Linked DNA regions of Homo sapiens. The protein of the gene in region 1 binds, or shares a complex with, the protein of each later gene. Each region holds a gene or a part of one and is shown on either strand. Other genes may lie near its edges. The genes, in order: RAB11FIP2 and RAB25. A codon is read from its position in the direction of its gene.

Region 1 (5,056 bases):
CAATTCCAGAACAGAAAGGCGTTCTGGTCTGCTGAGAAATCCCTTGTGCCAAATATGTATGATTTATGTCTAAGACTACATATGGTTCATGTCCCATAATCTAGAATACAACTGCCTAATACACTGCCATAAAAATGTACCCATACCTCGGATGGAGGGGCATGCACTTAGACTGTTGTGTTGAGGGGACTGGAAGTGGTGACTGATTAATGACTTCTGGTAGATGCTGGAGGATAAGAAGTGGTGAAAAATGCTACCGGCTGTACCAACCCTATTCTACTTTCTTCAGTACCACAAAAGGTTTTCTTACATTTCCTCTGAAAGCTTGTGCATTCCCTACCTTACAGGGTTGTTGTGAGAAATAAAATAAAGCATAAATAGGAAGTACTCAGCAGAGACCTTAGCCTATATATAAATACTCAAATATCATTTCTACTAAATCGTAAGCTCCATCCCTATGAGGGGATGTCTTATATGTAGAGGGCATCCACACATTTGTTGAAGAATGTTCACTTGTACTTAAAAACTACTCTTTTGAATGACTTTTCAGAACTATCTTCATAGTAAAATAAGTTTGTAGGTCTTACAGAATATGTGCTACAATACACCAAATAAGAGGCATCCTAGGTATTTATTAAAAAACAAGGAGGACTCATATATAAATCCATTATGGTAACACCGCTGTATCTGTAATAAATGTTGACAACTGAATTAAGTTTAAACACTTTAATCAACTATAAGTCAATAATCATATATTATATAAAAATTCTGATTCATGCATCAGATTACATAAATTATACAATTGTCACATTATACAATGCTTACATACTTTTGAATTTGTACCTGCAAAAATGTATACAAGTTATGAGAGCATTTACTTAAGAAGATAAGTGTTATACTCTTCAGTTATAAATAATGCTTCTATCTTTCAAATACCCGCTAAATATATGCATTTCTAGATCTGCAGCATTTTTTTGTACCTCAAAACACAAACCATCTGGAAGCTTCGAAGACTAACAGGCCCACATGTATCATGTATTAGACTTCAACTCCACTGTGAGAGTGCATTTTTTGATGGATAAAACAAATGGAATGAAACATCAACTCTATTTTAATGCTTGAAGAGCTTCTATACCTCTTATTAAATATATCAGAAAATGCTTCATATGCAGATTAATTAGCTAAGGTGCTACCAATTGCATATTAAATACTTCCAATGATTGCATCTGGATTATTAAAGTTCTACATCTGTGCAAATGGGGGCTTTCCATGTGTGCTGACAGACCCTTCTACATACCATCATGGCCCAGCAGCACTGTGATCCTTTCCCTTATTTCAAAGGGACCAAGTGAATGAGCATGCATCATACTTCACTTACACATACACACAAGTGACACCTACCACCTACAAGACATATGAGTACATGAACATCAAAAAAGTTTCAGCTTGATTTACAAATCCAAGGTAAATTGCTTCTTCTGAAAAGCTACAGAGGAAAATAAAAGCTCTAGTGTAACATTTACTGTAGATATATTAGACAACAGTTTTTTGTTTTTTTTTTTAGATTCTCTTTGTTAAAGAATAAGCACCCTTCCGGGGATGGTAGGCAGGGAGGCGTGGTGGTGAGGGAGTTGCTGGAGGAATAACAAGAAGAAAACAAGTCTGTCACTAATGAGCTTAGTTTTACTTAGGTTTCCATTCATGAAACCCTTTTAAATACAAGGCAACATTTTCACAGCTGGAAAATTACAACTAAATCTTGATTTACCACCAAAAGCAATAGATGTAGTTATGTATAATCTATAGATAATACTACATTCAGGGGACAATGGCAAAACTAGGCTCAATGCAGAACATAGCAGCAAAAAGCAATACTTAAAAACGTTTTTCATGAATGGGTTACATGTTGTTTTATATACAATTCTAAGATATGACCCTGGTATTCAATAAATGAAACTTGAAGCGTAAGTGGTAGGAAGGTATGTTCAATATTTTTAAAGCTGAATTTTAGAATTGGTTATAAAATAATACTGCTTTAAAAATAATAGCAGAAATAGTTTAATTATGTAACAGAAGTACATTAGCTTAAGATAGTCTTGAGATAAATATCAATTCTGTGATTTTAAAAAATCCTCTTGTTGGTAGTAGTGTTTTGGGCATGCATTCTTTAAAGCATAAAAGCAAAAATAAACTCTATAATCTAGTGTACTGTGCATTATTTAATAAGCACATATATTTTATTTCCATTTCTAAGCAACTAACAAAATACATTAGAATACCTAAAGTTATGTTTTGGAAAAATAAACTAAGGTGACCTTTTTGGCCTCTTTTTCTACAACGTGAGAAATTAAAACTACTTTGCACTTCTGCCCAAACACAGGAAACACTGATATATTTACTTGGGAACTAATTTTTACTTTTTGTTTTTAGTTTTATTATTTTGACTGATTATGAAAATATGCAATAAGTTTACTCTAGGTAATGAGTGAAAATTCACAAACATTAGAACAGCAAATTTTCAGGCAGTGATGAATGTATTAATAGATCTAGTTTTAAATATAATACTTGTCTCAGATTTAAAGATAAAAATTTTGATTGAGTTATAACCAAATCACTCATGTATGAATAAAGCTAAGCCTCAATAGCTTTTATATAGGAAAAGAATCGCTCCTTAAAAATCAATTTCCCCATAAAAAGAAGAGCAGTACTTGAACCATACTTTTAAATGAGTTCTATTTATGTAAAACATATCCCCAATACAAAACTGACATCTTGGTTCACTCTATAAACAGCAAATTTGGCCAAAGCATATTATTATAGTATCTGCAGATACTGTCATAATACTGAAAACATAGATTTTCACATTTTAAGAAGTGTATGAAAAGACTCAATAATACTACCAGACAAAAACAAATGCTGAGAATTTTGTAACATTTAGTTAATTAAAAGTGGCACCATGTTTAAAAAAAAAAAAAAAACTACCAAGACCTCAAACGGGAAAATACCATTCTACACCAGACTTTGAGGTTTATTACAGAATCTTGAGGAGAAAAAAATTGATAAAAGCTATTTTTCCTTCTCCATTTCTTAAAGCATTTAATTTTTATGAAAAAAATGTTCATAATTTCAAAATGTATGTTCTTACAGTAAAACTGAAATGCAGAAGATACAAATAACAAGGGGTTTTAGTTTACAAATACGAGCTTGGCCAAGTATTCTCTGATTCAAAATACTAAAATAAGCAAAAAAAAAAAACCCAAACTATTATATCGGCTTTTTGTTTAACTTTCAATGGAGTCTTAACAGAGATAAGTATTAGAAAAAAATGCAATTCATGGAAAGATTGGGGAATATGTAAGTCTCCATATGGACATGAATTTTCATTTTAAATTCAGAAAGACATAGATACTCTCAGTGTTTTATAGTATTTCAGACTTTAAAGGCTGAAAAATAAGCAGAAGATTAGCAATATTTTTATAACATTGCTTGTCAATTTAAATTTCAGAAAAAATTTGTACAAATCATATAAAAATAATCCATGGAAGAAATCAGTATTTTGGGGGAGTGGACTTTAAAATAGAACATAATTTTGTAATAAATCAATTCTTAAAGGGTGGATGTGGAGTAATGCATAATGTCACGCTCGTAAAGTTCTCTTCTAAAAACTCACTCTTCCTTTAGTAAGTCTTATTTTGGTTCAAGACCCAAAGGCAACCATCTGCTCTATTATTTATGTAACCTGAAACCAAGCCTAATTCTTCATTCCTGGAATCTGCCCGCTGCTTTGGGTTATCAGACACACCAGGCAATCACATACTTCCCACAATTATTTTCAGATATAACTTTATAATATTTGCTTTGCTAGTGATTTAAAGGCATGCAGAATTTCAACAAAACAAGCTATATTAGCTTATCTTCTGCTTATACCTTAAACAAACTCAAATGTTAATTAATTCAAATAAATTCATGCTGTTATGAAGTTAATGAAGTCTCCTAAAATTTGTCATTCTTTAAAAAAGGACTTGAGATCATCACTTTTGGGGAAAGAGAAAAACTTTGATGCTAGAATAATATATAGCAGCTCACTTTGAAACCAAGGTCCATGTAGTCAAGAGTGATTTGAAGCAGCTTCTCTATAACAAACCATGACAGTAGGAAGGATGACTTGTCTTGCATCAATAGAGCACACACATTTTCAAATCAAGAAATTGGTAGCCTAACTTTAGAGGCAATCAATTGTTTCTAAATGTTCTAAAAACACATGTATATATGAGGTATATGCCTATATTTTATATACAAGATACATGAATATATATATATTCATGTACATATGTGTATATAAAATATAAACTGTTTTTTTAGTAGTGTTTATAACGAGCAGTATTCCTGAAGCTAAATATTTCTACAAACTGATTTCTGAGAAACCAGCCACAGGATCAATTCTGCTTTATGAAAAATCTATTCCTGAGGAACAACTCACGTACTTCTGAAGATATTTCTGGGCCTATGGCAGATTAGTGGGTCAGTACCAGCACCTGAGTGAGTCCTAAGGAACCACTTATTCATTGAGAATCTGGCCCATTTTCAATTTAAACATTTAAATGATTTAGCTTGCTTCAAAGGTCACTCTTGATAGTCCCTGCTAATATTTACAGGTAAAACTACTCTTCACAATAAAGGAGAATATGTAATGAAACCTGATAGTGTAGTCTCTTTCAGTAACAAGTTTTTCCTTCCTTCCTTCTTTCTTTCTCTCTCTTTGTCCAATTATCAATACAATACAATTGGCTTTATTAACTGTTAGAGAATTTGCCAGCTTTCCTGGATGGTTCATACGGCACTCTGAGAATACTGGGCGTTTCTTCCATTACCCTTACAAGGAGGTTGTCGATGTAGTCCTCGAGTTCCCGGATGTGGGTGTCTTTCCTCCTAAGGAGTTCTTTGTGTTTCACCAGCTCCTGTAGAACCTCTTCATAGGTCAGACTACGATACCCTGCAGTGGCATCAAAGGGGTTGCTGTCCTAGAACAGGATAAAGACTGTCACTTTCATAGATA
Region 2 (6,845 bases), on another chromosome or scaffold:
ACATCCTCTTACCCACACATATCCATATTATTTCCAGCTTTTCCATACTGTCCTATGCAAATAAGGAATGTTTAAATATATATTTTTTATTTTTATTTTTTGAGACACAATTTCACTGTCACCCAGGCTGGAGTGCAGTGATGCCATCACAGTTCATTGCAGCCACAACCTACGGGGCTCAAACAATCCTTCCACCTCAGCCTCTTGAGTAGCTGGGACTACATGCATGTGCCACCACACTTGGCTAATTTTTTTTTCTTTTTCTTTTTTTTTTTTTGAGTCGGAGTTTCACTCTGTCACCCAGGCTGGAGTGCAGTAACACAAACTCGGCTCACTGCAGCACCCCCAGGGCTCAAGCAATCCTCCCACCTCAGCCTCCCAAGTAGCTGAGACTACAGACACATGCTACCATGCCTGGCTAATTTTTGCATTTTTTGTAGAGATGGGGTTTCACCGTGTTACCCAGGGTGGTCTCAAACTTGTGGGCTCAAGAGATACTCCCGCCTTGGCCTCCCAAAGTTCTGGGATTACAGGCGTGAACCTCCACACCCAGCCAAGGAACTTTTAAAGTTGGAGGAGGCCTTTATAAGTTGTATAAGCAAGGCAACTGAGACTGAGAAAAGGTGAGTCACTTGTTCAAGTTCACACAGTTAGTTAGAAGCTGAGCAGGGACCAGAGCCCACAATATGTGGCTCCCAGTCCTTGGGTGCCAGCCTGCCTTTCCAGAACCACTCTGGGTGGCCTCCTCTAATTCTGTGTGCTTAGTTCAGTGCCAGTGCAATTTGTGGGCTCTACTCACATCAGCCCCCTACACTCTACCCCAGCCCCCAGCTCATCCACATGGGTAAGACTGGGCCCTGGATGCTGCCCACCAGTCTAAAGGGTCTTCATGGCCCCTCAGGTGGATCCTTGTCTCTGAAAACCCAAAGGCAAAAACTCTGGCCTGCTAACAACAATCATACCAGTCATGATTTTTACACTTACTATATCCTGGGCAATGTCTCACTTACTTCCTACAATAACCCTTAAGGTAGATACTAATGTCTTCCCCATTTTTCATATGAAAAGAACAGCTCAGATTGGTTAAATAACTTGCCGAAGGACACATAGCTGGTCTAACACCCAGGCCCATGCTCTTAACCATGCGGGACTGTCCCTCCTTAGGGACAACTGGAACCTAACTTCTTACACACACATGAGCACACATGCCTTCCTCTCACCCACAGATGTGTCAACTGCCAAACTTTCTCCTTACCCACACTTTGATTCACACCTCTGTTCCTTATGCAAACACACACACACCAAACCTCCCACTTGTCCTCCCAGCTCATATATATAGAGACAAGTGCAATGTTCTCATACTCCAAGTCCTAGTCCAGAACTGTGCACCCCCTGACCTCCCACCATCCCTGTCCATATTCACACACAACAGTAATGTCTCCGCATGACACTCATAAAGAGCCCACAGATGTCACTCCCTCACCAGAGATGCAGGCTGACTCTGCAACCATGTATCAACAGACCAGGCTATAACCCGTCAAGCCCCTTTGTTTGTTTTAAACTCTTGGCTTTCCTGCCCACCAGGACAGATGCATTATGCAGAGTTGCAGACTCCAGTCTCACAGGAGACTCCGTTCCCTAATCTTTTTTCTGAGCTCAGTTCCCTTTTTCTGCTGGGCAGACCCTCCAAGCTCAGGTGGGGTTGGAGCTGCTCTACCCCATGCTCAGCCCTTATCTCTCCACTCCTTCAGTGGTGCTGATCGGCGAATCAGGTGTGGGGAAGACCAATCTACTCTCCCGATTCACGCGCAATGAGTTCAGCCACGACAGCCGCACCACCATCGGGGTTGAGTTCTCCACCCGCACTGTGATGTTGGGCACCGCTGCTGTCAAGGCTCAGATCTGGGACACAGCTGGCCTGGAGCGGTACCGAGCCATCACCTCGGCGTGAGCCCGGGCCTGGGGGGCTGCTGGGTGGTGGGAGTTCTGGGGAAGTCGAGGAACACTTCTGGAGGAGAAGTGGGGGAGGAGGAGGCAAGGGGGCTCAGCAGTGGGCTCTGGGGGGTGGGGATGGAGATCACAGAAGATAAAAGGTACTGTAAACAGAAACAGCACAAGCCAGGATATAGTAACACTGACTAGTACTACTAAAAGCAGGAATCATTGCCACTTACTAAGCCTTTGCTATGTGCCCAGGAAGGGACAAGTTACTTTACATTTGGCATTTTATGTAACCCTTAAAGTACCACAGGAGTAAAGTGCTATAATTAGTTAATTTCTGTATAAATACAAACAAGGTGAAATCAGGGTGGAGCTAGGATGGGGGCGAGCTGCACGGATCGAGAGCGCCCCCTCACTTCCGCACAATGCTCTGCACTTGGCAACTTTCATCTAACCACAGAGGACCAAAAGCTGAACCCAGCATCTGCATTTTATGAAGACTCAGAGGACACACAGGAGGTTAGGCCTCCTGACACCACATCCGAAGTGTCTCTTAGGCCGGGTGTGTTGGCTCACACCTGTAATCCCAGCACTTTGGGAGGCCAAGGTGGGTGGATCGCTTGAGCTCATGAATTCGAGACCAGCCTGGGCAACATGGCAAAATCCTGTCTCTACCAAAAATATAAAAAATTGGCCGGGCTTGGTGGTGCGTACCTGTAGTCCCAGATACTTGAGAAGCTAAGGTGGGAGGATGGCTTGAACCCGGGAGGCGGAAGTTGCAGTGAGCCGAAATCGCCCCACTGCACTCCAGCCTGGGTGACAAAGCGATACTGTGTCTCAAGAAAAAAGTGTCAGCTGGGCGCGGTAGCTCACACCTGTAATCCCAGCACTTTGGGAGGCCGAGGCGGGCAGATCACAAGGTCAGGAGTTCGAGACCAGCCTGGCCAACAGTGAAACCCCCGTCTCTACTAAAAATACAAAAATTAGCCAGGCATGGTGGTGGGTGCCTGTAATCCCAACTACTCGGGAGGCTGAGACAGGAGAATCACTCGAACCTGGGAGGTGGAGGTTGCAGTGAGCCAAGATCATGCCACTGCACTCCAGCCTAGCGACAGAGCAAGACTCTGTCTCAAAAAAAAAAAAAAAAGAAAAAGAAAGTGTCTTCCAGTCAGTGTGAGGCCTAAGCATGTGAAATGGGGTCTGTTTGTGTGTATATGGGGTGGATAGCACTTGCCAGGGGGCAGGAAGCAAGAGTCAGGGGCTTTGGTTACACATGCTCCTCGTTACCTGATCTCTTATGAGCCTCAGTTGACTCATCAATGAATTGGGAGTTAGACATCACTAGTCTGAAGACATCCCATCCAACTCCAAGAGGGAGACTGGATGCTTTCAGTGATGCCTTGAATGGTCAGGCCAGGGACTGCTGCAAGAGGTAGGCATTCAGCTAATCCTAGAAAGAAGGCCACGGGAGAGAACAGGCCACTGTTAAGGAGCCATGTGAGGAAGATCTTGAAGGTGGCAGAGTTGGCTAAAGCCCAGATGTGCACTGGTGGAGAGTAGGGGCTAAAATCAGGACGAGAACCTGAGAAAGTAGAGGGGCTGGCTGTGAGGAAGCCAATAGAGATTTTAGAGCAGGGAGGTGAAACTTTATTTATTTAGTTAGTTAGTTGAGACAAATTTTCACTCTTGTTGCCGAGGCTGGAGTGCAATGGAGCGATCTCAGATCACTGCAACTTCCGCTTCCCGAGTTCAAGCAATTCTCCTGCCTCAGCCTTCCGAGTAGCTGGGATTACAAGCATGCGCCATCATGCCCGGCTAATTTTTGTATTTTTAGTAGAGATGGGGTTTCTCCATATTGGTTAGGCTAGTCTTGAACTCCTCACCTCAGGTGATCCACCCGCCTTGGCCTCCCAAAGTGCTGGGATTACAGGCGTGAGCCACCGCGCCTGGCCGAGGGAGGTGAAACTTTACAGGCTCCAAGACTAGTGTCCCTGGAAGGCAGAGGAGCCTTGGGCTGCTCTGTTGGGTTCTGGGCCCCTGGCCGCAAGTTTCTGTATTTCCTGATCTCTAGTACTCTGATCCCGGGTGTTCCAGCTTGACGGCTCTGCTCTGATGCTGGGTCCAATGCCTCTGATCGTATCTCTGTCCATCCTTCTCATTCCCACCCAGGTACTATCGTGGTGCAGTGGGGGCCCTCCTGGTGTTTGACCTAACCAAGCACCAGACCTATGCTGTGGTGGAGCGATGGCTGAAGGAGCTCTATGACCATGCTGAAGCCACGATCGTCGTCATGCTCGTGGGTAACAAAAGTGACCTCAGCCAGGCCCGGGAAGTGCCCACTGAGGAGGCCCGAATGTTCGCTGGTGAGAGCCTGCCACTACCCAGGCTGACTCCTCCAAGCTTAGCCCACCTTTCCCTTGCAGTCTCCCAGCCCCTGCCCCCACCCATAGAGCCCCTAGCCTGGCCTTCCTCCATACAGTCCTCTACCCCATCCCCTCTTCCTCAGGATTTCCCAGCACTTCCCCTTTGGGACCCTGTGTCTCCCATGATGTCCCACCACTTGCCCTGAGATTGTCTTTATTGATTTTTTTTTTTTTTTTTTTTTTGAGACCGGGTCTCAATCTGTTGCCTAGGCTAGAGTGCAGTGGTGCGATCTCGGCTCGCTGCAACTTCCACCTCTTGGGTTCAAGCAATTCTCATGCCTCAGCCTCCTGAGTAGCTAAGACTACAGGTGTGCGCCACCATGCCTGGCTAATTTTTGTATTTTTAGTAGAGATGGGGTTTCATCGTGTTGACCAGGCTGGTCTCGAACCCCTGACCTCAGGTGATCCAGCTGCCTCGGCCTCCCAAAGTTCTGGGATTATAGGTGTGAGCCACTGTGCCCGGCCCGTAGTTAATTTTAAGGCAGCCCCACCCTGTAATGCTCAAAGATCCTATGGAGAGGATAGGCTTCCCAGGAGTTTTCTGAGTTTAGAGGCAGCACAATATGGTGGTTAAGGGTGTTCTGGAGTCCCATGGCCCAGTCTCCCATCTGCTCTTGGCCAGTTACTAAATGTGGGACATGGAGCAATTTCCTTATTCTTTTTCTTTTTCTTTTTTTGAGAGGAGTCTCGCTCCGTCACCCAGGCTGGGGTGCAGTGGCACGATCTTGGCTCACTGCAACCTCCACCTCCTGGGTTCAAGCAATTCTCTGCCTCAGCCTCCCGAGTAGCTGGGATTACAGGTGCCCGCCACCATGCCTGGCTAATTTTTGTATTTTTAGTGGAGACGGGGTTTCACCATGTTGGCCAAGCCGGTCTTGAACTCCTGACCTCGTGATCCACCCACCTCAGCCTCCCAAAGTGCTGGGATTACAGGCGTGAGCCACCGCACCCAGCCCCTTATTTGTTTTCTTTGTGTTTCTGGATTCAGTTTTCTAAATGAACCTACCTTGTAAGTTGTTTTAAGGATTAAATGATCTGCTACATGCCAAGAGTTTAGCACATGGCAAATGTATATAGCAAACATTAATATTATTATTATTATTGCCTTTGACTCCCACAATTAATGGTGTGTTTCCCTTCCTGGCAGAAAACAATGGACTGCTCTTCCTGGAGACCTCAGCCCTGGACTCTACCAATGTTGAGCTAGCCTTTGAGACTGTCCTGAAAGGTTAGAGCCTACCTTTATTCTGCACCCCTATTCCATCCCCGTGGCTTCTACAGGCAGCAGTAGGAATGCAGACACTCAGCCCTCACCCCAGCTAATTTCTCAGCTCCTCTGTGGGTCCTGGCACCACTGCCTGTCCCCCTCAGTCCCTCCCCAGTGCCTCCCACTCAGTCTGGAGCTCAGGGAGGGAACAGGCCACACTCCCCATGGGGCTGACTCTTGGTTCCTTCTCCACCCAAGTAAGTAGAAGGGACCCCTATGTCCACACTTCATTTCCTTCCTGCAAAACCTCCTGCAAGTGTGGCCACCCCCCATGCTCAGAAGGGGCATGCAGTATGTATGGGGGGGTTGGGGAGAAGGGAGCATGGGCTCTAAATCTTCTGGCCTGATCACTGCCCTCTGCCCTCCCAGAAATCTTTGCGAAGGTGTCCAAGCAGAGACAGAACAGCATCCGGACCAATGCCATCACTCTGGGCAGTGCCCAGGCTGGACAGGAGCCTGGCCCTGGGGAGAAGAGGGCCTGTTGCATCAGCCTCTGACCTTGGCCAGCACCACCTGCCCCCACTGGCTTTTTGGTGCCCCTTGTCCCCACTTCAGCCCCAGGACCTTTCCTTGCCCTTTGGTTCCAGATATCAGACTGTTCCCTGTTCACAGCACCCTCAGGGTCTTAAGGTCTTCATGCCCTATCACAAATACCTCTTTTATCTGTCCACCCCTCACAGACTAGGACCCTCAAATAAAGCTGTTTTATATCAATGCCTGGTCATTCCACTGCCTCCCGTCTGTTCCTCCCTCTTCTCCTTGTCTGTGCCTCCCCTTCAACTTTGGCCCCTCCTCTGAGTCCCTAATCCCCTTCCTCTGTCCTCCCCACCATACCTACTGCCCCTCAGGGCCAGCTGCCTCTGGAGTTCTGTGGTCTGGGGACAGTGCCAAGGGGATAGGAGGTGCCTGCCCTTCCCTCTGCCAACCCCCAGGGCAGGTGGGGGAGGGAGGAGAGCATGGAGGGGAGGGGGTATATCTGGAAGGCGAGACAAAGGAAACCATCGGCGGGCACCATCTGGTGCTGAGGGCCCTGGTGCCAACAACTGAGGTCACTCCAATGCCAGGGGCAAGGGGAGGAGGCAGCGGGAGATACAAGGGGAGAAGAGGGAGTGGGGGCCAGTCCTGTAGGTGTGTACTGGGGAAGGGGTTTTTAAGCCTGAGAGGTGCAAGGTCCAAGTCCTCCATCCAGTCTTTTTTTTTTTTGAGATGGAGTC

Evidence for each region.
Region 2: the proteins of RAB11FIP2 (region 1) and RAB25 are in contact, whole or in part, in a crystal structure (PDB 3TSO), measured with the Homo sapiens proteins. Residues at the interface, in NP_055719.1 of Homo sapiens: Arg475, Glu478, Ile481, Asp482, Asn483, Leu485, Val486, Met489, Pro493, Ser494, Leu496, Arg497, Val498, Pro499; in NP_065120.2 of Homo sapiens: Arg34 (codon at 1,808), Ile45 (codon at 1,841), Gly46 (codon at 1,844), Val47 (codon at 1,847), Glu48 (codon at 1,850), Phe49 (codon at 1,853), Ser50 (codon at 1,856), Thr51 (codon at 1,859), Lys62 (codon at 1,892), Trp66 (codon at 1,904), Arg73 (codon at 1,925), Arg75 (codon at 1,931), Ala76 (codon at 1,934), Ile77 (codon at 1,937), Ala80 (codon at 1,946), Tyr81 (codon at 4,112).

Annotation. Positions count from the first base shown.
Region 1 is NC_000010.11:118,004,205-118,009,260, forward strand, and holds the end of RAB11FIP2 (rab11 family-interacting protein 2), read right to left. Parts: intron 5,022-5,056; coding exon 4,794-5,021; 3' UTR 712-4,793; downstream 1-711. UniProt on the Homo sapiens protein: A Rab11 effector binding preferentially phosphatidylinositol 3,4,5-trisphosphate (PtdInsP3) and phosphatidic acid (PA) and acting in the regulation of the transport of vesicles from the endosomal recycling compartment (ERC) to the plasma membrane.
Region 2 is NC_000001.11:156,064,160-156,071,004, forward strand, and holds the end of RAB25 (ras-related protein Rab-25 precursor), read left to right. Parts: intron 1-1,751; coding exon 1,752-1,947; intron 1,948-4,110; coding exon 4,111-4,304; intron 4,305-5,511; coding exon 5,512-5,592; intron 5,593-6,000; coding exon 6,001-6,128; 3' UTR 6,129-6,345; downstream 6,346-6,845. UniProt on the Homo sapiens protein: The small GTPases Rab are key regulators of intracellular membrane trafficking, from the formation of transport vesicles to their fusion with membranes.